7 linked regions of the Homo sapiens genome follow. The protein of the gene in region 2 purifies or fractionates together with the protein of the main gene of each other region. This does not show direct contact. Each region holds a gene or a part of one and is shown on either strand. Other genes may lie near its edges.

Region 1 (3,500 bases), 1.1 Mb from region 2:
TAATGCTCCCGTCTCTGCCCCAGAGGCTCAAGGACTATCAGCGGCGCCTGGACTTGTCCCACCTTCGGCAGAGCAGCGACCCTATGCTGAGCGAGTTCAAGGTGTGACCATACCCTCCTGCCTCCCCCGCCCCCCTACTCCTTGGCCCAGGGGATTCTGTGATACAGCCCCCAGCCTGTCCTGCCCATCCCATAATACACCCAGGAAGCGAGAGCTCTGTCCCCCACCTCATGCCAATCCCATGATCCCCAGCCTGTGGTCATCCCCGGCCACTGCCCTGCCCTTCCCCTCCCCACCAACCCCAATCACCCCCTGCCAACCTGCACAAACCATCACCCCCTCCTGCCCCAGAACCTGGACATCACCAAGAAGAAATTGGTCCACGAGGGCCCACTGACGTGGCGGGTGACTAAGGACAAGGCAGTGGGTGAGTGCCAGAGCAGCTGCCTAGTGCAGGGTGTTGGGGCAGTGAGCCAAGGGCGGGGAGGGGGTCGCGCGGGGGCACGCCGTGTGAGCACTGCTCGCCCCGTAGAGGTGCATGTGCTGCTGCTGGACGACCTGCTGCTGCTGCTCCAGCGCCAGGACGAGCGGCTGCTGCTCAAGTCCCATAGCCGGACACTGACGCCCACGCCCGATGGCAAGACCATGCTGCGGCCCGTGCTGCGGCTCACCTCCGCCATGACCCGCGAGGTGGCCACCGGTGAGTGCAGCCACTGCATGGCCCAGGGCAGAGGGTGTCTTTTTTGGGCAGAGCTGCCTGTGGAGTGGGGAGCAGAACCCTCTAGAGAGCCAGGGAGCCAGCATTCTAGCAAAGAGGTTGAGAAGTAGGTGGAGGTGGGCAGGGCGGGGCCAGGCCTAGAGGGTTTATAAGTGAGGTAGGAACTGCTGCAGGTGTTTGCACAGAGGCGTGTCTTGTGTAAACAAGGAGAAGAAAGGCCAGGAGTCCAGTGAGGAGGGATTTGTAAACATACTACTAGGAAGTTGCACCAGGGCCACAAACACTGGAAGCGGCTGGAGGGTGGGAGTGGCTGGAGGGGTTTCGTTAGGTAAGCCAGGGTACATGCCCGATTCCATAAGGAGGTGTGAGAGGTGGGGCTCAGGAGGACACATCGGGCCCTGGATATTAGCAGACAGTGAGTGGTGAGTTGAGCCATGGGAGCCCTGAGAGCGCCACCACTGTGGGTGACTTCTCCAGCTTGTGCTTAGGGAGGGGCAGGCACTGGGGGGACCTGGGCTCTGAGCCCCATCTCCCCCTCTCCCTGCAGATCACAAAGCCTTCTACGTCCTTTTTACCTGGGACCAGGAGGCCCAGATATACGAGCTGGTGGCACAGACTGTGTCGGAGCGGAAAAAGTGAGGGGGGGTCTGAGTTCTGAGTGTGGGTGGAGGACGCCCAGGTTTCTGGGTTCCCAGGGACAGGAGGGCTGTGGGGAGGCCCTGGCATAGGGTCTGGGGGCTCTGACTGCCCAGGGATTTGGCCTTTCTCCCCAGCTGGTGTGCTCTCATCACTGAGACTGCCGGATCCCTGAAAGTCCCTGCCCCTGCCTCTCGCCCTAAGCCCCGGCCCAGCCCGAGCAGGTGAGGGGGGCCATGGAGAGAGCTGGAGGTTCAGGGAGTGGGGCCGGAAGGCGGGGCAGGCTTCCCTCCACAACTCCAGAACCGTCTCTGTGTGAGCATGCACATGTGTGAATGCATGTGTGTGCATACATGTGTGTCTGTACGCAAGTATGTGACTGTGCGTGCATATATAGTGTGTGTATGCATGCATGTGTGCGTGTGCATGTGTGTGCGTGTATGGTGTGTGTGTATGCATATGTGTGCATGCGTGTGACAGCATGTGCATGCATGTGTGTGTGTGTGCGCATGTGCCGACCCCACCACTGCCCCGTCTGTCTCCTGTCTCCAGGCCTCTGTGTCTTCCATTGTCTGGGCCTCTCTGTCTCCCTGTCTCCCGGCCTCGACCTCTGTCTCTGTCTCCGGACCTCCCTGCCTCCCCACCTCCAGCTCTCTGTCTCCCTGCCCCTGCGGCCCCCCAGGGCCAGGGGTGTGGGGTCACCCAGCACTTCCTCCCCTCAGCACCCGAGAACCCCTCCTCAGCAGCTCTGAGAACGGCAATGGTGGCCGAGAGACGTCTCCAGCTGATGGTGAGACCAGAGGGATGCTGGGTGAGGGGCCAGGTTGGGGCTGCCGGGTGAAGAGAGGCATCCACAGGAGGCCCGGCAGGATCTGAGCTCCCTCTCTGTTCCCCAATCCAGCCCGGACCGAGAGAATCCTCAGTGACCTCCTGCCCTTCTGCAGACCAGGCCCCGAGGGCCAGCTCGCTGCCACGGCCCTTCGGAAAGGTAGCCCAGCTCTGCCCCTCCAGGGTGGCCACCAGCCCAAACAGTGCCTCTGTTCCAACTAGAACAAGGCTCTCCACGTCAAAAATTTCCTTACGCCCAGCTGCCAGAAAACAAATGCTCCAAACCCACCCAGCCTGCACCACTGTCCTGGGTGCCCACGTCCCTCTTCTGCAGCCACCATCCCTTGCTTGATTCTATATTTAGCCTCTTCCTGAACACATCTCTGTCTTCAGTACCTTCCTGCCCTGTCCCAACCCTAAACCCAGCCTCACTTCTTCACCTCCCTTTGGATCCCCGAACCCCATCTGCTCAGCCTTGCCTGGCACCCACCTTCACCTCCAGCCCCTACACATCCCCTTTGGAATCCCCCATCCCAGATCCCAGCCCAGCCCCCTGGTCTCCTGACTCCACCCCTCCTTGCCCCTGGCCAGTGCTGTCCCTGAAGCAGCTTCTGTTTCCGGCGGAGGAAGACAATGGGGCGGGGCCTCCTCGAGATGGGGATGGGGTCCCAGGGGGCGGCCCCCTGAGCCCAGCACGGACCCAGGAAATCCAGGAGAACCTGCTCAGCTTGGAGGAGACCATGAAGCAGCTGGAGGTGGGGCGGGACGGGCCAGGGGTGCCCTGAGTGGGCTGGGGAAGGAAGGGGCCCCCCTCATCCATGACCCCCACCCCACCAGGAGTTGGAGGAGGAATTTTGCCGCCTGAGACCCCTCCTGTCTCAGCTTGGGGGGAACTCTGTCCCCCAGCCTGGCTGCACTTGAGGTTCCCGCCCAGGAAGGTGAGTGGGGCACCTGGGGGCCAGGGCGCTGTCCTGAAAGGAGGGTCCCCCTCCAGAGCTCGCATCCCTACAGCCCCTTCTGTCCATCTCCCTCTTTGTCTTTTCTGAATCTCCCCACTCCACCTCGTGTTTCTCATCTCTGTGTCTCTGTTTCTGATAATCTGTTTCTCTGTCTCTGTGCCCGCCTGCCTCTCCCCACCTCCCCTTCTCTCTCTGCTCTCCCTGTCTTGTCTCTGTGTCTGTCTCTCCCTGTCTCTCTCTCCATCTCTCCCCGTCTCCCCTCTTCTCCTACATCCCCCAGGCCTTTTGCAAGAAGGAGAGGAATGGGGGAGAGGACGTGAGGGACCACCCCCACCCACACAGCTGCCGCAGCATCTCAC
Region 2 (3,500 bases):
AGACTTCTTCCCAAATATTGGTCTAATATCTACCAAACACATATGGTCCATGAGGGCCAGACTTCCATCATCAGTTCATGTTTGCCCTTTCCACCAGTCAGTTCTGCATTTGCAAACATCCACATGTATTTCCAGAAAGATCCACATGGTCCTCACCTGCCCTCTACTGGGGGAAGGGAGCATCATAGACCCACAACAGGGAACATGGTCTTGGTTCAAAGCTATCAGCTCTTGCCTGTCCCCTTCACTCTTTGTAGGTCATTCCTTGGACTCTGCTCTATCTTTAGAGGTCACTGGCTCAAGTCAGTCACTATGAGACACCTGGGAAAACTGCCCCACCTTGTGGCTGCACTGCCTGATGACTGAACTGACCTCCAGGCTTGACTCTGGTCTCCCCTGTGTTATTTCTGCTGAAGTACCCAGTCCCAGGCCAGGCTTTCCAGTACCCAAAGGGTTTAAGGACAATGGGAAGTTCCATCATCCATCTCTAGGATGTCCTTGGCAAGGGAAGCTGCAGAGAAAACATACCTTGGGGGGAAAAGTAAGACTGAAACTAAGAAGATTCCAGCACTGCATGCTCCAAGTCAGGACCAAAAGGTGGGCCAGGCAGGCAGTTGGAGATGGAGGGACTCAGAGAGGCACCAGGGGCTATGACTGCTGGTCCTGTGTCTTTCCATGACCCAATGCTGCTGCTCAATTCACACCTGAGAAAGTCTGTGCTTCTCCCACATAAAGCAGGCAGCCTCACAATCTCTTAGCCTTCAGAATGCCATGCATCTGTGTTGTAACACACACACCTGCCATGGGCTTTTAGGGACTCGGGTGGGCTGAGAGGTGGCAAATGCCAATTCTGATTGAAAAATGCCTTTGGAGGAATCAAAGGTGCCACACAGGGCAATCTTCTCTCTGTTTTCTGCACAGTGGAGACTCCCAAGCCCTCCATCTCCAGCAGCAACTTAAACCCCAGGGAGGCCATGGAGACTGTGATCTTAACCTGTAATCCTGAGACTCCGGACGCAAGCTACCTGTGGTGGATGAATGGTCAGAGCCTCCCTATGACTCATAGGATGCAGCTGTCTGAAACCAACAGGACCCTCTTTCTATTTGGTGTCACAAAGTATACTGCAGGACCCTATGAATGTGAAATATGGAACTCAGGGAGTGCCAGCCGCAGTGACCCAGTCACCCTGAATCTCCTCCGTGAGTATCTTCTGTTCCTCTGTGAGCCAGGCTGCCATCCCAAATACACATGGCCAGAGGCCAGGCCTCTCAGTCCCTCTCAGGTCCAAGTACAGAGACCTTTACCACTGGACATCAAAGCTGGCCATGACTTTCTGCCCCAGACAAACCACAGTAGGCCTAGGCTTGATCCACAGTGGGAGAAAAGAGGCTGCTCCTGTCATGGGAGGCTCAGGGTCCACAGATTGTGATGGGAGAAACAGGTGAATGTCTCAGGCTCCAGATCAGTGAACACAGCGAGGATTTGGCTGGGACTTCAGTCTTGCGACTTGGCTCACAGGGTCACTGTGGCCCTTCCACAGACCAGGATTTTCCCTTCCCTCTGACAATGTCACCTGTGACTTTATTCTCTTTGCTCCAGATGGCCTGGATGCCCTCACCATTTCTTCCTCATACACCTATTACCATACAGGGGAAGTCCCCAAGCTCTCCTGTCTCATAGACACTCACCCACTGGCAGAGCATTCTTGGCTGATTGGTGGGAAGTTCCAGCAATCAGCACAAGTGTTCTTCATACCCCAAATCACTAAAACATATAGAGGGGTCTATGTCTGTTTCATCCATAACTCAGCCACTGGTGGAACAAATCTCATAATCAAGAGGATCATAGTCCCTGGTAAGTGGATCCCTGGAGCATTGGCACTATGTTTTCCAGGGAAGTCTATCTAGCTATCAGGGAAGAGCCACCTGCCCTCTGCAAAGGGAGAGGGAAAATCAAAAACCCAGGACAGGGAATATGTTTCTGCTCCAAAACCACCAGCATTTGCCTGTCCCCTTCACTCTTTCTAGATCATTCTTTAGACTATACACTAACAATGAACAATCTGAAAGGAAATTAAGGAAAGAATTTCAATTCACATTAACATGAAAAGGAATAAAATATTTTGGAATAAGTTTAACCAAAAAGGTCAAATGATTATACCTTGAAAACTACAAAACATTGCTGAAAGAAATTAAAGACAATATCATTATATGGAAAGACACTTCATTTTCATGGACTGGAAGAATCAATATTGTTAGAAAGACAATACTACCCAAAGTGAGTTGCAGATTCAATGCAACCCCTACTAGAATCCCAGTAACATTTTTTGCAGAATTAGAAAACTCTGTCCTAAATCTGACCTGACAGGCACTTATTAATGACTGCCACAACAGAAACACTGTGAAAAAGATGCAACCATGAAAAGGTGGAAAGTTTTGATGACATAGAAAATAGCAATCAGCCTTTCTCACATCCCAAAGCCTTCAAATATATATGAGTGCAGCATGGCCAGTATGGAATTCACCGAAAACTAATCACCAAGCTAGAAATGTGGTGAGAGAAAAAAAAGGGCAAGAATATATTTGGCTTATCACTTCCCACTTTTGTCTACTAATCTGATGCTGAAAAGAAATTCTCACTGAAGCATTTTAGATTTTGAATCTTTCAGATTTGGGATGCTAAACCAGTAAGTATATGACAAATATTTCAGAATCAAAAAATGTCAGAAATCCAAAACACTTTTTGTCCTAAGTCTTATGCATAAGAAATAATCTGTGTGAACAATACGCATCAAGCTCTACAGCAGATCTCTAGAAACTCCCCAACTTGTATAACGGAAACTGCACACCCATGAACAACTTCTGATTCTCCCCACTCCCAGCTCCTGGCAACCAGCAGTCTCTTCTCATATTCACTCTGGAATCCATTTACATGAGGTCCCTAGAGTAGTCGAACCCAGGGGATCAGAGAGTAGAATATCCAATGAAAGAAACTACTTGCAAAACTTTTCTCCAAATTTGTCTCATATCCATCAAACACATATGGTCCATGAGGACCAGATTTCCAGCAGTTCATTCCCACCCTTTCCACCAGTCAGTTCTGCATTTGCAAATGTCCACATGTATTTCTGGAAAGATCCACATGGTCCTCACCTGCCCTCTGCAGAAGGAAAGGAAACTTAAAGGACCCAGGACAGGGAACATGGTTCTGCTCCAAAGCCACCAGCTCTTGCCTATCCCCTTCACTCTTCCTAGATCATTCCTTGCGCTCTGCTCTATCTTTAGAGGTCACTGGTTCAAGTAAGTCATCATGAAACACCTGCAAAACACTGCCCCACTTTCTGCCTCCACTGCCTGATGACTGAACTGACCTCCAGGCTTGACTCTGGTCTCCCCTGTGTTATTTCTGCTGAAACATCCAGTCCCAGGCCAGGCTGCTCAGTATCTTCAGGGTTTCAGGACAATGGGAAGTCCCATTATTACTGATCTCTAGAATGTCC
Region 3 (3,644 bases), on a different chromosome or scaffold from region 2:
TCACTTCCTCACATCTTTCAGGTCTGTACAAGTGTCAGCTTCTGAAAGAGCCAGTCCATCTAAAACCGTAACCCCTTCCCCTCCGCTTGTACATACCACCAAATTCACTATAGATTTTACTTATTTACTTTTTCTGCCTCTCCCTGGCCCTTAACTGCAGTAGAGCAAGACTTTTGTTTTGCTCACTCCTGTGTTCCCAATACCTACCACAATGCCAGGCACATGGTACATCTCAATATTTATTAAACAAATGCATGAACAAACTAAGTGAATAAATAAATGAATTCTCTTTTTTACAGGATCTTCTTCATGCCAGCCATACCGGGCAGGAACCATCAGAGAGACACACTGAGGAGGCACTCAGAAAATTTTGATAGAATTGAATTTACATATAGCTGATAAAGCCTAAATAGAAAGGTTGATGTATTTAGCTTGAATCCTTCACTTTAGTGGTCTAATCAACAGATAAATGACAAGCAAAGAATGAAACAATCCAAAAATGTTTTTCAAAACAATTTTGTGAATTTTATTTTTACAAAAATTTTTTAAATTCATATTTTAAAATGTATACCAAGGCAAAAAAATCATATAAGCTATATCATAAATACAAGAGTTTCAAAACATACAAGAGACATATAATGTAAAAAAAAATTATATATATGAAGTCCAATGTAATTTATAATACAAAAAAATACAGCAAGGGAAAATGCTTTAGAAATGCTCATCTGCAAACTACAAAACAAAATCCTCCTCTTGACCGACTGCATGAACTGCCATGAAATTTGCAGCTCCATCATACTAGGTATCTCTTCTTTCTTCATGTTACCTTGTCTTTCTTCCCATTTTTCTTTTAAGACAGGGTCTTGCTATGTCACCCAGGCTGGACTCAAACTCCAGGGCTCAAGGAATCCTCCTGTCTTAGCCTCCCAAGGAGCTGGGATTACAGGCACGTGCCACCGCACCTGGCTCCTAATTTCTTTTTAAGACAAGGGCCATTCAAGGCTTTTTAAAACCTGATGTGTGTTGTTATACTTTATAACAGTCAGTGGCTTTTAATTCCAAAAGGTAATACTTTATACTCTGCCTACATGAGATGAGCCCCTAACAGTGTGTACAAATAAAATTATGATTTGGGTATTCTAAGGAGACATACCATTTACAGAAATTTCTTTTGATAAAATTAAGGTTTCACTTTTCACATTTGCTTAAATCACAGTAAGCCTGTAAACTAGCTCCTTGACCCACCATTTAAAAACAAAAAACCTCCTTAACAATGCAAAGGATTGTATTCACTGTATTTATGATTCCATCAAAGGCTAAATAGCTTATCTAAAATACATCTGAGTGATCTATTCCCTTACCCTCTCCCCGACCTACCCCACAGTTATACTAATATGCACCAACAATAAAAACAAGTTATCTACTATTAACACTAGTAATCATTTGATTTAGTTCCAGTTACAGAAACAAAAAAAATCTTTGAATTTTGATTATATTTTCTGGGAACCACATCTACTATTAATTTATCTCCATTGCCCTTAATAATATATTTCAGAGAAAATGTTTCTTTAGATTTACGCTTCAACTAAAGTTCCTGATCAGGAGGTCAAAAATAGCTAGTTATTGAGTTTTTTCCCCTGTCAAAAGCTATTTTTCCTGATTAACCTTGGAGATAAAAGAAGAGAAAGGAAAGAAGGAAGGAAAAGAGGATGAGAGAGACAAGGGAAAGGAAAATAGGTTGGCTGGAAGGTTAATCTTCTAGAGTTACAGTGACTCATCTGGAATTACACAGAAAACCAGAGAATTCTCTTGAAATTCATTAAAAGAATGGCATTCACAATGCCATTCATCTAAAAGTAAATGGAATTAGATGAAAATTGTTCTATTTCACATTTCTTAGAAAAATCTTATTAAGGCTTATGATTAAAATTGGCCCCACCTCAATGACTAACATTTAGCAGTGGAGAAACTGCTTTTTAAAAAAGAAAAAAGTGAGGATTAGGAAAGATCAGGTTTCATTCAAGTAAGAAGTCTGATATGTAAGAAACAAGAGGGAGCAGGAATAGTGTCCAACTCAGATACTGACAACTAGAGTCCAGATATGGCACAGGGCTGCCAGCAGCTACAGTGAGAAAAGGGTAGACCAATAAAATCTACTCTTTCCAACATACAAGTTTTACTTCACAAAAAGAACTGCTGAAGGCCAGGCCAGTGGCTCATATCTGCAATCCCAACACTTTGGGAGGCTGAGGCAGGAGGATTACTTGAGGCCAAGAGTTCAAGACCAGCCTAGACAACATAGTGAGACCCTGTCTCTACAAGAAAACTTAAAAATTAGCTGGGTGTGGTGGCTCGTGCCTGTAGTCTCAGCTACTTGGGAGGCTGAGGCAGGAGGATTGCTTGAACCCAGGAGTCTGAGGCTGCAATGAGGTATGATTATGCCACTGCACTCCAGCCTGGGTGATAGTGCAAGACCCTGTCTCCATTAAAAGAGAAGGGGCCTGGCCAGGCACGGTGGCTCACGCCTGTAATCTCAGCACTTTGGGAGGCCAAGGCGGGTAGATCATGAGGTCAAGAGATCGAGACCATCCCGGCCAACATGGTGAAACCCCGTCTCTACTAAAAATACAAAAATTAGCCTGGCATGTGCGCACACCTGTAGTCCCAGCTACTCGGGAGGCTGAGGCAGGAGAATTGCTTGAACCCAGGAGGCAGCGATTGTGGTGAGCCGAGATCGCGCCACTGCACTCCAGCCTGGCAACAAAGCAAGACTCTGTCTCCAAAAACAAAAAAAAAAGGTGGGGGGGCCTGCTAAATCCAAGACTCACTTATTGAGTCAATTAAAGGAAATGCTGCAGACTATGCACACAGACACAATATTTTTAAAGCAAATTTAAAGAGTGCAAAAAACCTCTAAGATTGTATTTAGGAGAACAAAACCCCCTTGGGGTAAGTGTGGTTCAAAAAGCAGGCCACTGCTACCCTGAGGCACAGCCTGCATAACAGTAATAAATACAGACAGTATTAAAATACCAATTTCTTCCAAATTCTTCTCATTAATTATGTCAACCATTTTGAATGCATCAAGACAGAATTTTACCAACAGTACAACAAGGTATGTATTCACATTTTCATTTGCATCCTAAGGACAAACTGTTAATGATGATCATGAAAAACAAGATTAAAGGTATGTTCATTTGGGAAAAAGCTACATTAATATTATTCATCCAACCACAAACACTTTTGTAATGAATGCAATACTGCACAACAATTAAGAGCTTTATAAAAAGTTGATATCAGGGTTTCATTAGAATTTTTTTCCAATTCAAAAATTTAAAAAGTTCAACTACATTAATGCTTAACTATTTTATTCTAAAGTCTGTAAAATATATAAAATACCAAGATTATCCACAGTCACATATGTTTTGAAGTCAGGGGACACGTGTATTTTCTTAAGATTGGTTCCATTTGTGTAGAAGGTCTGTGAGGATTCCCCAGTGACAACGTTCCACCACTGTTCAGAGAAAAATAAAATTCTCATTAGATTGGTAATTACACTGTGTGACAATTTATAGTGCCAGCAGATCCTTTACCCTATCTCCTCCCCCCAACCGAACTCAAGCAAACAGGAGGAAAATGTCTCG
Region 4 (3,926 bases), on a different chromosome or scaffold from region 2:
GGTCACTCACCGGGTGGGCTGCTGCTGCATTTTAGGGGTAAAGCCAAGCCCAGCGAGAATGACTGATGCCCTAGTAGAGAAGAAATCGAAGAACTCAGTTGGAACAGTCCACAGAAGGGAAAGGAAATCTGAAGGAGGGAGGGGGAGCTTTAAATACCTGGCAGGTGCCTTGTCAGCCTCAATCTCCTCCAGTTTGGCATAGATTTCTGCCAGCTCTGCAGCTTCAGAGCCCTCCGCCCTGGAGGGAGGAGAAACAGCAATTGGCCTAAGCAGGGGCAGTCTAGGAGGATGTCCTGCACCCTATACCGTTGGAAAGGCCATTGGCTACCTTGTGGCTGGAAGAGGAAGAGAATACAGGAAGGGTTTGCACAGTGCTCATTACCTTGGGCACTATGGAAATGGGCACTGTGGAAAGAACAAGAAAGGGCAATGGGCACTGTGGAAAGAACAAGGGCTTCTGAGTCCCAGAGTGCCAAGTTCTAAGCTCTGCTGATTACTAGGATGTACATGCAAATTATGGATTGTTCCAGGACGGCAGGCGCTCTGTAAGCGACAGCGGCTGCTAGTTACTCCCTAGCCGGGAGTCCTCACCTGCCAGCAGCAATCTGGGCAGTGAGCTCCCGCTCCCTCCGTAGCAAATCCTCTCGCACACTGTCACTCTCCAGCACACTCTGCAGGGCAGGAGTGTCATCTCCAGCAACCTCTTGCTCAACGTGCAGCAGGGAAATGTGGGCTGGAACCCGCAGACTCCGGGTGGCCAGCATCTTCAGTAACGTTGTCTTCCCCAACCCATTCCGCCCCACCAGCCCGTAACGGCGGCCCCATGCCAGGTTCACATCCGCTCCAGCCAGCAGTACTCTGCAGGAGTGGAGAAAGGAGACCAAAGATGCTCTAGAAATAGGTGCACAGCAAGTTTAATGACAAACCTAACATTGTTTATAGCCCCGTTTCACCTCTCCAAATTGTCCTCTAATTAGAAAAAGAAAGCCAACCCCTGCCACCACTATTCCCTCACCTATCGCCAAAAGACACATCAAAGTTCTCAATTCGCACATCATAGGATTTGTTCTTGCCAGATGATTCCAACCGACTCTCCTTTCTGCTGCCTGCCTGGCTGGCTGATGCCTCTTCTAAGACTCTTTAAAGGGAGAAATGGACAGCTCTTAGTGCTCCCCACCACCTTCTGTCCAGGCAAAAGCTGCTCTGCTCTCTTCTGAGCCATGCTTCCCCCACTCACAGAGGGTTGCTGGTCTTGAGCGTGTCCTTCTCTGAGCGCTTCTCCTGCTTTGCCTTAAGTCGAGCCTCGGCCTTCTCTAACTTCTTTGCATTCACTGTCTAAGGGTCCAAACACATCGACTTCACTCTCGGGTGTAGGCTCAGAAAGGAACCCCAAGAGAGAACATCTCGAGTAAACCCTCTTAACTTACCCATGATGAACAGACTCAAAGGCTCAGGAAAAGACATAGTCAGAAATCCCCCCAAAAGATACTCCAATTAGACAGTCAACTCCCAACCCCATCACAGACAGTCCCCTCCCTTGCTTCCTCCTCCTCACCGAGGACTGTTCCCTCTTTAGCAGTCCTGGAAGTTTGGTTCCACAGTCTGTAAGCGATAAGAAAAGCAGTCACCTTCTCCCTGAGGGAAGGGAAACTAACATTTTGAGTGACTAATAGGAACCAGGCACAGACACAGATGTTTTCTACAAAACCTTATAATACTGCAGATAGATGGCTATTATCTTCCCTGCACTAAAAACAAAACAAAACAAAACAAAACAAAACTCACGTAGAAGGATACAGAGGCATAGACAAGGCTGGGGACAGATAACCAACTCTTACAAGATCATGCAGCTGGTTAGCAAGTTGCAAAACTGGGGGTGAAAGCAAGTCTGTCCAGCTCCAGGCTCTTATGCTTCCTATCCTACCCAAGAGCTTGGAGGGAGAACCCTCCAACCTCCTCCCCACCCCCATCATGGGCTCTTCTGCCCTCGGTAAAGACATCAACTAGCTCCTACAACCTTGTCCTGTGGAAAAGACGTAGGAGCCCTAAGCTGCAGGCAGCAGATGGTTGGGGGCGGAGAAAAGCACAGGGGGGCAGTTAGTTCAACCTCCCCTCACTCTCACCGTAGTTCTCCGTTATCTTTGACAACTGGATAGGGGCGTCCAGTAGCACCTGGCTATTTCCCTGGCTTTGTGGCTCAGCCCTATGTGGGTAGGGATAGAAAGCGCAGAGTTAGGAGTTGAGGGAAAAGCTCTATGGCCATCAGATCTTCCTCCCCCACCTCTTGTCTCCGGACCGTTCGCCGTCCCTTCGCCCCCATCAACCCCTACTCCCTGGCACATACAGACGCAGAGTGTTGTACATGCGCTGGCACACGGCCCTGATGCCCGCGTCATCCTTGCTGTCCCCGGACACCTCTTGCAATAGTTCCCCTACAGCTTCCACCAGGTCATCCACAGACTCGAAGTCCGCGCTGCCGCTGTGCAAGACGCCTGGGCAGGGCGTGGTAGAACGAGGAAGGTATCGGGTAGGGTGGACACACAAGCAGTTTCAGACCCCAGACAGAGGCCCCAGTCCAGGCTCCAGACCCAACCAGCCCCCGGGACAAGAGGTCATGCAGAGGAGAGGCCTGGCAACAGTCCCGGGCACGACGCTCGCTTAGACTTTCCCCCGGCCTCCACTTCGGTCTCCCCAGCCGGCCGATTCAGTTCTGCTTACCGGTCACGTAGTCGAAGACTTGTCCGTCAATTTCGGGGAACTCGCTCCGCAGGATTTCGGCGCAAGTCGCCATGTTCCACTCAGGAACCCGTCCGCGCAGTCGCTGTGAGACCCCGGCCTAGGCCCGCCCCCCGCCCTGCCCCCGAAATCTCGCCCTTCCTTGCAAGGCGCATGTGTAGCGGTGACGCAGGAAAGGAGCGGAGTGCGCAGAGCCCGGTGGGCGGGGCGAGCGGGGCCTTGAGGAGAGGCGCCGAGTCTGCGCCGGAGCCGCGCTCTCTGCGCGTGCGCGACACCTTTTCCGCTGAAAGATTAGCCACATGTGCGGTTCTCGCTGCCTTCTGGGAGGTGGAGTTCCGGGAGCGAGGGGTGGGGCAAAGGCTGGGAGCTCAAGGTTTATCGGGGCCGCGAGGCACCCGTGGTCTGGCGGGTGGGAGCCTCCCAAGAGGCAGGCGGCTGATAAAGCACTTTGGCTTTGCCAGGTTTTATGCGCTCCCTCGAGGCGCGTCTGCTGCTGGTGCGTACCCAGTCAGGCCCATTTTGGAGCCTGCCCAGAGCTTTGCTGACTCACCCCGGTCCCTGACTCTCAGAAGCCCCCTGCTCAGTGCTTTGCTTTCGCGGGTCCCCAGACCCTACGGGCTTCTCAGCCTGGTGGCCAGCGCCACCCGCCTCCCCGCCGCGACCGCCTTTTCACTGTGTAATTCAGCCGACCTTTGTGAATTAAGCCCATTCAGTTCTTCCACCACCCCAGGGCACGACCAAATCCACCGCCAAAGGGCAAGAAAACCAGGACAACGTGGCCTGTATAAATTATTCCCTACCTACACCCTGAGCAGACTTCTCTGCACTCAATAAATGCCAATAAAAGGCTATTTCCTTTCACCGATTCCCTCGGGAAGTTAGGAATTTCCTCCAAAATGATGCTACTGCTTTATATTTAACGTGAATATTCCTCCAATTGGTCTCTAAAAGTGGCACCGAAAATTACATTATTACCCATTCATCCCTTTGGATTAAACATTGCCATCATGAGGCATCAATCCCGATATTGAACCATTTTACAGGAAATACAGGTAAAGAGGAATATGTTAAGTGACTTCATGGGGACAACAGGCAAATTCTGATGTGGTAAACTACAGAACTCTGGTTTCTTCCACAAAATTGCAAGACCTGAAGGGAAACATCAATTTTTAAAATTTGAGGAGCATTAA
Region 5 (3,500 bases), on a different chromosome or scaffold from region 2:
GGCAAGAAAGAGCATGTGCAGGGGAACTGCCCTTTATAAAACCATCAGATCTTGTGAGACTTACTGTTGTGGGAACAGCATGGGAAAAAACCCATCCCCATGATTCAGTTATCTCCCACCGGGTCCCCCCCACAACACGTGGGAATTATGGGAGCTAAAATTCAAGATGAGATTTGGGTGGAGACACAGCCAAACCATATCACACATTTTATGGTCAGTGATGTCCAGTCATCAGTTGTTGGACACTCGGATTGTTTCAACTCTTTGACTTCTATGGATAATGCTGCTGTGGGCATTCATATGCAAGTATTGGTGTAGACGTATGTTTCCATTTCTCTTGAGAGTATTCCTAGGAGTGGAATTGCTGGACCATATAGTATGTTGAACTTTTTTAGTGTCTTCTGTAGTGTTTTCCAAGGCAGCTGCACCATTTTATCATCCCACCAGCAGTGTATGAGGACCAATCCTTCCATTTTTAACCTCTTGCCACAGCACCTGGGGCCTCCCCATCTCCAGGTCACCTGGGGTCACGATGGGTAGGTCCCCTGGGTTCTCTCTTCCTTGGGGCTCCCCTCTGCTGCAGCAGGGGTCTCTGCTCTCCCTCATCAGTTACCCTTCCTGTGCCTGTTCCTCATCTTCTGGGGGGACTTTGTATCTCCTGTCTGCTCCTCCTCTTGGTCCTGAGAGTTGAGAGCTCTTTGGTTCCTATAGCGGGTTTGTTGGGAGTAGTGCTAACAGCGCACGCCCTGGCTGCTGTGTCTGACCAGGAGCCCCTGTTCCAGTGTAGGGTTTCCACCTCTGCCTTCAGGTATGTCCCCTCAGCTGGGCACACCCTGTCTCCTCTGCCCTCCACTCTTCTTGTGAAGCCCAGCCCAGGTAACGGCCAGCTTCCCCTCATCATGTAGACTCTTCTTCCGTGTGCTACGTCTGCTTCTACCCACACTTTTCTTTTCTTTTTTTTTTGTACAGATGGGCGTTTCACTTTGTTACCCAGGCTGGTCTCGATCTCCTGGGCTCAAGCAATCCTCTCGTCTCAGCCTCCCAAAGTGCAGGGATTACAGGCATGAGCCACTGTGCCTGGCCTAGCCACACTTTTCTCTGTGCTCTTGTAGTATCTGTTTTCACAGTTGTCCCCCTCCCACCCCCACCGCCTTTTAAAAATTTTTAAAATTGTGATGAAAAACACATAACAAACTTTACTGTCTTAACCATTTTAAAGTATATAGTTCAGTCATGTTAAGTGTATTCACGTTGTCTAACAGTTTCCCTGAACTTTTTTATCTCCCCAAGCTGAGACTCCATACCTGTTGAACGCTAACTCCCCCTTTCCTCCCTCCCTGCAGCCCCTGGCAATCACCTTTCTACTTTCTGTCTCGATGAATTTTACTTCCCCAGATACCTCATATCAGTGGAATTATACAGTATTTGGAGTTTTTTTGACTGGCTTATTTCACTTAGTATAAAGTCCTCAAAGTTCACCCATGTTATAGATAAGGGAAGATTGGAGATTGTTGTAATCTAATTTTGCTGCTATTACAGAATATTTGAGACTGCATAATTTATAAGCAATGTAAGTCTATTTAGCTCACAGTTCTGGAGCCTGGAAAGTCCAAGGGCATGGCATTGGCATCTTGCCGTGTCATTTGCAATTGGCATTATTCCATTCAGGAGGCCAGAGCTCTATGGCCTAATCTCAAAGTTGCCATCTCTTACCACTGTTCCATTGGGGATTAAGTTTCCAACACATACTTTTTGAGGAACACATTGAAAGCATTGCAGAGCCTTATTCATCTGTTTGCCCTTGGAGCCTAGCACACTGCCAGGCACATTGAATAAGCTTAATTAATGATTAGTGAATTGAAGTGGCTGCAGTGTCACAGGAACCCAAAAGAGGGACAGCAGAAATTGCCATAGTTGGTATGAGGACATCCTGACCTAGACATTTTTGACCTAGTAAATGTTTTGTTCATGATGGGCATTTGACAGTTATTTTCATCAGAATTATATCAACATTGGTGAGTTTATACCAAGAAATATTTTCTGCAGCAAATTCTATTATGCCCACTTAAATCCTTGCTCAGTTTTTTTTTTTTTTTTTTTTATGTAGGTCAGTTAAACCATTTCTAATATGTGGCAGATAACAATCTGTGCTCAGATTTACAGATAAGCTATTCTGGGATTATTTCGAAAGGTAATGCTCTTTTGGGTGGAGGACTTCAAGATTAATTTGTGTACTAATTAACAAGTTAAAGATCATACCAGAACAGTGATCTTTAAGCACGGACCTGTAGTGGTCAAGAAAGTAACACAGGCATTTCCAGTATTAATGCCAGATATTTTGGTTTATACTCCTTGAAAGACTGCCTGAATTTCAGGCTGTGTAGAACTGACTCATCCTGGAATCTAGGCCTACATATTGCATATCAGGAGGTGCAATATGAAAATAAAGTCAAAGCAAGGGCCCAGGCATGGTGGCTCATGCCTGGAATCCCAACACTTTGGGAGGCCAAGACGGGCAGATCGCTTGAGGTCAGGAGTTCGAGACCAGCCTTGCTAACGTGGTGAGACGTGGTCTCTGCTAAATATACAAAAATTAGCTGGGGGTGGTGGTGTGCACCTACAGTCCCAGCTACTTGGGAAGCTGAGGCAAGAGAATCACTTGAACCCAGGAGATGGAGGCTGCAGTGAGCCAAGATGGTGCCACTACACTCCAGTCTAGGCGAGACTCCATCTGAAAAAAAAAAAAAAAAAAAAAAGACAGCAGAACATCCTTTAACACACATTTTCTATATTTATTTTCTTCTACTGAAATCATTTTCAGTGAGATGAGGTGGGTCCTTTGCCTTATACTTTTTAGAGTGGTGATCTGATTCACTGATCAATTTTTGTTTCAGTATCTAATTTTTATTGATTACAGTTTCCTTATCAAGTCCAATATGCTGGTGGAGGGGGTAGCGAGGGGTACCCAGTTTCACAGGGTGTTGTCTTTAGCTGCTCTGTATGTGTGCATTCCCACGCACCGCTTATTTCTGGCATAGAAAATGTATTACGAATGGAATGAAGGAATGACAACTTATGTTCATTTCTTAGCTACTGCATGAAAAAATTGGGAGCGATTCCCTTCAGGTATTCCAGGGTGGCCTTGCCATCTTGCATGGGTGTGTTTCACTGCCAACTAAGTCTCCTTGCTCCCAGTCACTTTGAAAACCACATGCGAACTGCTCACACCACTGGAGCAAAAGAGCAAAAGGCAGAGTCCAAAGACTTCATTTGGGAAGGCCCCCCAGGAGGGGTGAGAAGGAAGACCTTTGCAATAGGATAAATATCCGCATTCCCCAGTTCCCCTCTCTGGGTCTGTAAGGCTTGGATCTCTGTTCATTTTTTCTAGGTCCATGGAAAGAAATTATTCCTTAGATTTGATCTAGATGAAGAAATGGGGCCCCCTGGCAGCAGCCCAACACCAGAGCCTCCACAAAAAGAAGTGCAGAAGGAAGGGGCTG
Region 6 (3,041 bases), on a different chromosome or scaffold from region 2:
GTTTGTACTGTAGTCATTTGATGCCTTCCCAGTGCAGTCATATGTAGCCTTTTAAAACAGAGACTAGAAGGACTGTGCTTCTATGAGAAAGTGCAAGATGAATCAGCCACTCTCCCCACCCACACACTTGAATGCAAGTCAAGACACGGTGGATGTAAGGAGTGGGCTAATGCCTGTAAAACACATCACACAATGCCTGGCACATAGTAAGTGCATAATGCATGTTTTTAAAAAGCTTCAGATGATGTGAAAGAACTTCAGGACACTAGTGAGTGAACTTCTGCTTCTGCTACTCCCAATCCAAGCATTCATGAGGTTGAGGTGTACCCTATGTCAGCTGTTCCCACTCTTCACTTCATTCCTGATCAATATTCCCCCCCGCCAGTACCCCAGATTAAATCTTCAGCATCACTCAGCTCCAATGGTGTTTATGCTTCCAATTTCTTCCCTCTTCTCTTTTTTCAAGGGCCATCAAAGAGCAGATATGATCATGCCATTCTGCCTAAGAGCTTTCTATAGGGTTTTAGAGGATAAATTCTAAACACAAAATCACTTTTAAATACAGATGCTTCTTGACTTATGATGGGGTTACATCCTGATAAACCCATGGTAAATTGAAAATATTACAAATCAAAACAGCATTTTCCATTTACCATATGTTCAACTTAAAATAAGCTTATTGGGATGTAGTCTCATAAGTGTAGGAGAATGCTGAATGCATATTTCTTTGACACCATCATAAAGTTGAAATATCAGATCGAGCCATCTTAAGTTGAGGACCTTCTGTACTAATTTCCCCAATCTCCTTGTATCCTTCATTTTTCAATTTGTGCCTTGCTCATGATTAGTTCTCTTTTTACAATGTCTTTACTCATTGTCTCTTTCTTTGTAAAAATATTACTTTTTGAGGATCTAGTAAAAATACTACCGCCTAGACATTTGTGTGTCTAGAGCACATGGCTGTAAAGTTTTCATCTACAGGTTTGTGTGTGTGTTTCTTTTCTTTCATGTAGGACACTAAGGACCAAGAAAGGTGTTCACAATTGCATGCCTATACAACTCTGGCCATTAATTTTTTTTTTTTTTTTTTTGAGACGGAATCTCACTCTGTCACCTAGGCTGGAGTGCAGTGGCATGATCATGGCTCACTGCAACCTCTGCCTCCCAGGTTCAAGCAATTCTTCTGCCTCAGCCTCCTGAGTAGCTGGGATTACAGGCACCTACCACCACGCCTGGTTAATTTTTGTATTTTTAGCAGAGAAAGGGTTTCACCATGTTGGCCAGGCTGGTCTTGAACTCCTGACCTCAAGTGATCTGTCAGCACTTGGCCTCCCAAAGTGCTGGGATTACAGGCATAAGCCACTGTGCCTGGCCAAATTTTGATTCATCAAATTATATTGCCCAGGTCATAAAGGAAAAAAGAGAAATAATAAAAGTTAGGTTTTTTATTCTCAGCACATACTAATTTTCTGTGGCATAAATTTTACATGATAGACATGGTGTATGTTAGATTCTGCACTGAATTGTTTTTCCTCAGAAGACATTGAATGACTAGAACAATTGTTTGCATTCACAGCTTAATACAGGAAAGTGAAGTGTTGAGATTTTGGAATCCCTTCTCCCTTGGGATAGTGAGAGGGGCAGACAGAAGGGGTAGTGTCTGAATATTGTGGTTCAGGCCAGCTCAAATCCTACCACCAATAATTGCACGAACCTACTTGTAGCCACCAATAATTGCCCCATATTGAAATGTAACCCCCAAGGGTTCTCCTCTGTCTTCTTGACCACTGTATGCCTAACATGTAGAGCAGTAGACACTGAATATATTTGGTGTGTGATGAATAAATGGATGAATGAATAAATGCACATGTGTGTTAGGTACCTGGCTAAGATCAGACTGCATATTGCCTAAAGAATTCTTTTTCTCAACTTGAAAATTTTTAGCCAATGTGAAAATTATGTTTGCGACTGTCACTTCATCATTGCCAGGTTCAAACACTGCAGTGAATTTTTTTTTTTTAACCAAAAGGCCACTCTCTAACCACCTGAGGAAAAGCAACTAAAAACCACTTATGTTTAGAAATTCAAGAAATGATTCTTATGAGTTTGCCAAAATTCCCATTAGTTATTTATAAAATGTTGTAAGTCAGGCCTTGCTTCAAAAAATATCTTGAGAAACCACAAAGCAAAGAAAGTGGCATACATCTACGAGCTTTTTCCATGTTAGGCTGGGAGAACATTCTGTAACAGGAAACCACCGTGCTCATGTGTGCCCTGAGAGAAGAAAATCTTCACACAAGAAGTAGAGAATAGGGAAAGAAATGCATAGCAATGAGCCTCAGAGGCAATGCCTATATTGTGCTGTGAACTGATAATGTCACTTGGAAGATAACACGTAAGAGGTAGTTCCCAGCCCTGCTCTTCTCACGTAGGACATGTAGGACAGACCTATGTGTTTTGCTTTCTGGGGAGAGGGGATCAGTTGTATGACCCCCTTTATTATTTCCTCTTCACCAGTTCTGGTTTTCTAGGTTTGAGGACTGAAATCTTGAGAAGTAGGATCTGATCTTTCTTCCAAGAAGCTCTTCTCTCCCCACCTGTCCTTGTGTTCTTTATCCCATCAATAGCTAAGAAGCAGAACCTATTACTTTTGCTTAAATGTTTTAAATTAAGCAAATAGATACATTATGAGGCTGCATTTTAAACTTTAGATATTTCAAATAAGACATGCAATATAGAGTCTTAAGGTAAAACAAAAGAGCATAATGCTAAAAAACAGGCAACAAAAAGAAGCTAGAGCTTTGAAATAGCTAGTCAGGTAAACAGAGCACTTTAATTTAAAAGAACACACCCTAAATCTTGTTTTATAGAGGAATTTTACTGTGTCATGGATTTGGAGCATATTCTTCTCAAGCCATTTGGTATATCCTAAATTCTAGGTATACGTGAGATTAAAGAAGAGATACTCACTGATGTGCCTCCGTATGGAGTGATAGTTGGTGCATGGGAAATGGCAAGGGCTGTTTTGTTTCATTCTCTCT
Region 7 (3,500 bases), about 32 Mb from region 2:
CCTGTAGTCCCAGCTACTTGGGAGGCTGAGGCAGGAGAATCACTTGAACCCAGGAGACGGAGGTTGCAGTGAGCTGAGATGGTGCCACTGCACTCCATCCAGCCTGGTGACAGAGCGAGGCTCCCTCTAAAAGAAAAACAAAAAAAGAAAAGGAAATGAAGGAAATGAAGGCTGGGCATGGTAGCTCATGCCTGTAATCCCAGCACTTTGGGAGGCCGAGGCCAGTGGATCACTTGAGGCCAGGAATTTGAGACCAGCCTAGCCAACATGGTGAAACCCCGTCTCTACTAAAAATAAAAACATTAGCTGGGCATAGTGGCACAGGCCTGTAATCCCAGCTACTTGGGAGGGTGAGGCATGAGAATTGCTTGAACCTGGGAGGCAGAGGTTGCAGTGAGCTGAGATGGCACCACTGCATTCCAGCCTGGGTGACAGAGCAAGACTCTGTCTCAAAAAAAAAAGAAAAGAAAAAGAAAAGAATCTGTGTACCAGAAGAGGAAATGTGGGCCTGAGTATTCATGAGATCATGTGTGGGGTTGTTCATTGGCATGGGCTGTGGGTGTATAACCGCTGTCAGCATATGTATGTACACAGGATTTCTTGTGTATGAGCATGGGTTGTGTGTATATGGACACTGTTCATGTCTGTTTCTATAACAGGTAACCAAAGTCTGTATATGGTAGGGTGGTGTATATGCAGGCTTGTGAATGTACTCCAGTTGCATGTCCCAGGCTCTGCATGTGTAGGGGGTAGTAGTATGTTTTCTTGAGATTTTATTTTATTTTATTATTTATTTATTTATTTTTGAGATGGAGTCTTGCTCTGTCACGCAGGCTGGAGTGCAGTAGCGTGATCTTGGCTCACTGCAACCTCTGCCTCTCAAGTTCAAGTGATTCTCCTGCCTCGGCCTCCCAAGTAGCTGGGATTACAGGCATGCGCCACCAGGCCCTGCTAATTTTTGTATTTTTAGTAGAGACGGAGTTTCACCACGTTGGCCAGGCTGGTCTTGAACTCCCGACCTCAAGTGATCCGCCCACCTCGGCCTCCCAAAATGCTGAGATTACAGGCATGAGCCACTGCGCCCAGCCAATGTTTTCTTGAGATTTTAAATGTGGGGCTATTGAATGCACCAGTGGTGGCTGGGGTGTTCGTGCTTTTCTAGCCCTCAGCATCTGCAGATGGGCCAAGCTGTAGCCTCCACCCCTTACTGCCTGCAGCTGCCCCTGAGCCTGGACCTGCCCAGCCCCCGGCCCTTCGCTTTGCCTCTGGGCAGCCCTCGAATCCCCCTCCCGGCGCAGCAGAGCTCGGAGGCCCGTGTCATCCGCGTCAGCATCGACAATGACCACGGGAACCTGTATCGAAGCATCTTGGTGAGGGGCTGGGCTGGGGGTCTGCTGGAGGCTGCCCTGCCCTTGGGGCCGGGGCCCTCACCTCACCTCCCGCCCCTCTCTTCCAGCTGACCAGTCAGGACAAAGCCCCCAGCGTGGTCCGGCGAGCCTTGCAGAAGCACAATGTGCCCCAGCCCTGGGCCTGTGACTATCAGCTCTTTCAAGTCCTTCCTGGGGACCGGGGTGAGCAGGGATGGGTTGGAGCTCAGGATAGGGGGCAGCGGGGAGGCGAGCAGACTGACCACGCCCAAGGATGGAGCCCAAGGTTACCCGGGTTCACAGGGCTGTGAGGTGCTTCAGGCAGAGAGTAGGGGTAAGATAATCAGTGGAGGTAAGAGGACATAAAATACCTGTAACCCAACGATGTAGGGTCATGAGATTGTCTTGGCTCAGTGTGAGAGAGAGGTACCAAAGGTCATCTTCCTAAAATTTAAAAGACAATAAGATTGTCCAGGGTCCGGCCAGGCGCAGTGGCTCATGTCTGTAATCCCAGCACTTTGGGAGGTCAAGCTGGGCGGATCACTTGAGGTCAGGAGTTTGAGACCAGGCTGACCAACGTGGTGAAACCCCGTCTCTACGAAACATACAAAAATTAGTCGGGTGTGGTGGCACACTCCTGTAGTCCCAGCTACTCAGGAGGCTGAGGCAGGAGAATAATTGCTTGAATCTGGGAGGCGGAGGTTGCAGTGAGCCGAGATCATACCACTGCACTTCAGCCTGGGCAGCAGAGCGAGACTCTGTTTAAAAAAAAAAAAAAAAAAAAAGACTGTCCACGGACAAGTGACAGAAGGGAGTGTTTCTGACCTTCAATTTGTAGGATGGGCTGGGCATGGTGGCTCACAACTGTAATCCCAGCACTTTGGGAGGTCAAGGTGGGTGGATTGTCTGAGCTCAGGAGTTTGAGACCAGCCTGGGCAACATGAGGAGACCCCATCTATACAAAAAATAGAGAAATTGGCTGGGTGCGGTGGCTCAACGCCTGTAATCCCGGCACTTTGGGAGGCCAAAGCGGGTGGATCACTTGAGGTCAGGAGTTCGAGACCAGCCTGGCCAACATGGTGAAGCCCCGTCTCTACTAAAAATACAAAAAAATTAGCTGGGCATGGTGGCACATGCCTGTAGTCTCAGCTACTCGGGAGGCTGAGGCAGAAGAATCGCTTGAACCCAGGAGGCGGAGGTTGCAGTGAGCCGAGATCGCACCACTGCACTCCAGCCTGGCGACTGAGCAAGACTCTGTCTCAAAAAAAAAAAAAAAAAAAAAAAAAAAATATATATATATATATATATATAGAGAGAGAGAGAGAGAGAGAGAGAGAGAGAGAGAGATTAGCTGAGCATGGTGGCATGTGCCTGTATTCCCAACTCCAACTACTGGGGAGGCTGAGGTGGGAGGATCACTTGAGCCTAGGAGGTGGAGGCTGCAGCGAGCTGAGATCACGCCACTGCACTCCAGCCTGGGTGACAGAGCAAGACCCTGTCTCAATTAAAAAAAAAAAAGGGGGCCGGGCATGGTGGCTCACGCCTGTAATCCCAGCACTTTGGGAGGCCGAGGCGGGTGGATCACGAAGTCAAGAGATCGAGACCATCCTGGCCAACATGGTGAAGCCTCGTCTCTACTAAAAATACAAAAAATTAGCCAGGCATGGTGGCAGGCGCCTATAGTCCCAGCTACTCAGGAGGCTGAGGCAGAAGAATCACTTGAACCCAGGAGGTGAAGGTTGCAGTGAGCCAAGATTGCGCCACTGCACTCCAGCCTGGCGACAGAGTGAGACTCCGTCTCAAAAAAAAAGAAAAAATAGATTGTCTAGGGTCGAGTGAGAGAAGGGAGTGTAGAAGTTTGTCTGATCTTAAGTTTGTAGCATCATGAGATTGTTCAGGCTCAACCTGATGGGATGGGAGACTAAAGGGCATCTGGGCTTAGATTTGTGAGAACTAAGTTTGTTCACCACTGGGACCCTGAAGTTATCTGAACTTGGGACGGGAGAGAGGCAAATGGATAGCCGCGGAAGCATGAGATTGTCCTGTCTGACAGGGAGAAGCAAGGGATTGAGCGTATTCACGCTGAAGTACATGGCATGAGGTTGGCTGGATATTAGGAAAGGATGCTTGTGG

Evidence for each region.
Region 1: the proteins of PSG11 (region 2) and ARHGEF1 purify together in Homo sapiens (affinity purification with mass spectrometry; one large-scale study listed by BioGRID and IntAct). This does not show direct contact.
Region 3: the proteins of PSG11 (region 2) and APAF1 purify together in Homo sapiens (affinity purification with mass spectrometry; one large-scale study listed by BioGRID and IntAct). This does not show direct contact.
Region 4: the proteins of PSG11 (region 2) and ABCF3 purify together in Homo sapiens (affinity purification with mass spectrometry; one large-scale study listed by BioGRID and IntAct). This does not show direct contact.
Region 5: the proteins of PSG11 (region 2) and NEIL2 purify together in Homo sapiens (affinity purification with mass spectrometry; one large-scale study listed by BioGRID and IntAct). This does not show direct contact.
Region 6: the proteins of PSG11 (region 2) and DSC2 purify together in Homo sapiens (affinity purification with mass spectrometry; one large-scale study listed by BioGRID and IntAct). This does not show direct contact.
Region 7: the proteins of PSG11 (region 2) and RGL3 purify together in Homo sapiens (affinity purification with mass spectrometry; one large-scale study listed by BioGRID and IntAct). This does not show direct contact.

The regions. Positions count from the first base shown.
Region 1 is NC_000019.10:41,903,684-41,907,183, forward strand, and holds part of ARHGEF1 (rho guanine nucleotide exchange factor 1), read left to right. Parts: exon of another isoform or gene 1-23; coding exon 24-101; exon of another isoform or gene 102-103; intron 104-351; coding exon 352-427; intron 428-532; coding exon 533-700; intron 701-1,265; coding exon 1,266-1,353; intron 1,354-1,491; coding exon 1,492-1,578; intron 1,579-2,076; coding exon 2,077-2,144; intron 2,145-2,255; coding exon 2,256-2,342; intron 2,343-2,773; coding exon 2,774-2,937; intron 2,938-3,019; coding exon 3,020-3,103; coding exon of another isoform or gene 3,104-3,120; exon of another isoform or gene 3,121-3,125; intron 3,126-3,421; coding exon of another isoform or gene 3,422-3,500. UniProt on the Homo sapiens protein: Seems to play a role in the regulation of RhoA GTPase by guanine nucleotide-binding alpha-12 (GNA12) and alpha-13 (GNA13) subunits. Acts as a GTPase-activating protein (GAP) for GNA12 and GNA13, and as guanine nucleotide exchange factor (GEF) for RhoA GTPase.
Region 2 is NC_000019.10:43,016,470-43,019,969, reverse strand, and holds part of PSG11 (pregnancy-specific beta-1-glycoprotein 11 isoform 1 precursor), read left to right. Parts: intron 1-921; coding exon 922-1,200; intron 1,201-3,500.
Region 3 is NC_000012.12:98,732,290-98,735,933, reverse strand, and holds the end of APAF1 (apoptotic protease-activating factor 1), read right to left. Parts: intron 3,515-3,644; coding exon 3,368-3,514; 3' UTR 501-3,367; downstream 1-500. UniProt on the Homo sapiens protein: Oligomeric Apaf-1 mediates the cytochrome c-dependent autocatalytic activation of pro-caspase-9 (Apaf-3), leading to the activation of caspase-3 and apoptosis. This activation requires ATP. Isoform 6 is less effective in inducing apoptosis.
Region 4 is NC_000003.12:184,185,073-184,188,998, reverse strand, and holds the start of ABCF3 (ATP-binding cassette sub-family F member 3), read right to left. Parts: upstream 2,801-3,926; 5' UTR 2,792-2,800; coding exon 2,719-2,791; intron 2,493-2,718; coding exon 2,345-2,492; intron 2,205-2,344; exon of another isoform or gene 2,204-2,204; coding exon 2,124-2,203; intron 1,636-2,123; exon of another isoform or gene 1,603-1,635; coding exon 1,556-1,602; intron 1,336-1,555; coding exon 1,238-1,335; intron 1,139-1,237; coding exon 1,016-1,138; intron 859-1,015; coding exon 592-858; intron 336-591; coding exon of another isoform or gene 329-335; intron 239-328; coding exon 158-238; intron 71-157; coding exon 11-70; intron 1-10.
Region 5 is NC_000008.11:11,776,210-11,779,709, forward strand, and holds part of NEIL2 (endonuclease 8-like 2), read left to right. Parts: intron 1-3,388; coding exon 3,389-3,500. UniProt on the Homo sapiens protein: Involved in base excision repair of DNA damaged by oxidation or by mutagenic agents. Has DNA glycosylase activity towards 5-hydroxyuracil and other oxidized derivatives of cytosine with a preference for mismatched double-stranded DNA (DNA bubbles).
Region 6 is NC_000018.10:31,061,381-31,064,421, reverse strand, and holds part of DSC2 (desmocollin-2 isoform Dsc2a preproprotein), read left to right. Parts: 3' UTR 1-3,041. UniProt on the Homo sapiens protein: A component of desmosome cell-cell junctions which are required for positive regulation of cellular adhesion.
Region 7 is NC_000019.10:11,395,315-11,398,814, reverse strand, and holds part of RGL3 (ral guanine nucleotide dissociation stimulator-like 3), read left to right. Parts: intron 1-1,217; coding exon 1,218-1,370; intron 1,371-1,456; coding exon 1,457-1,571; intron 1,572-3,500.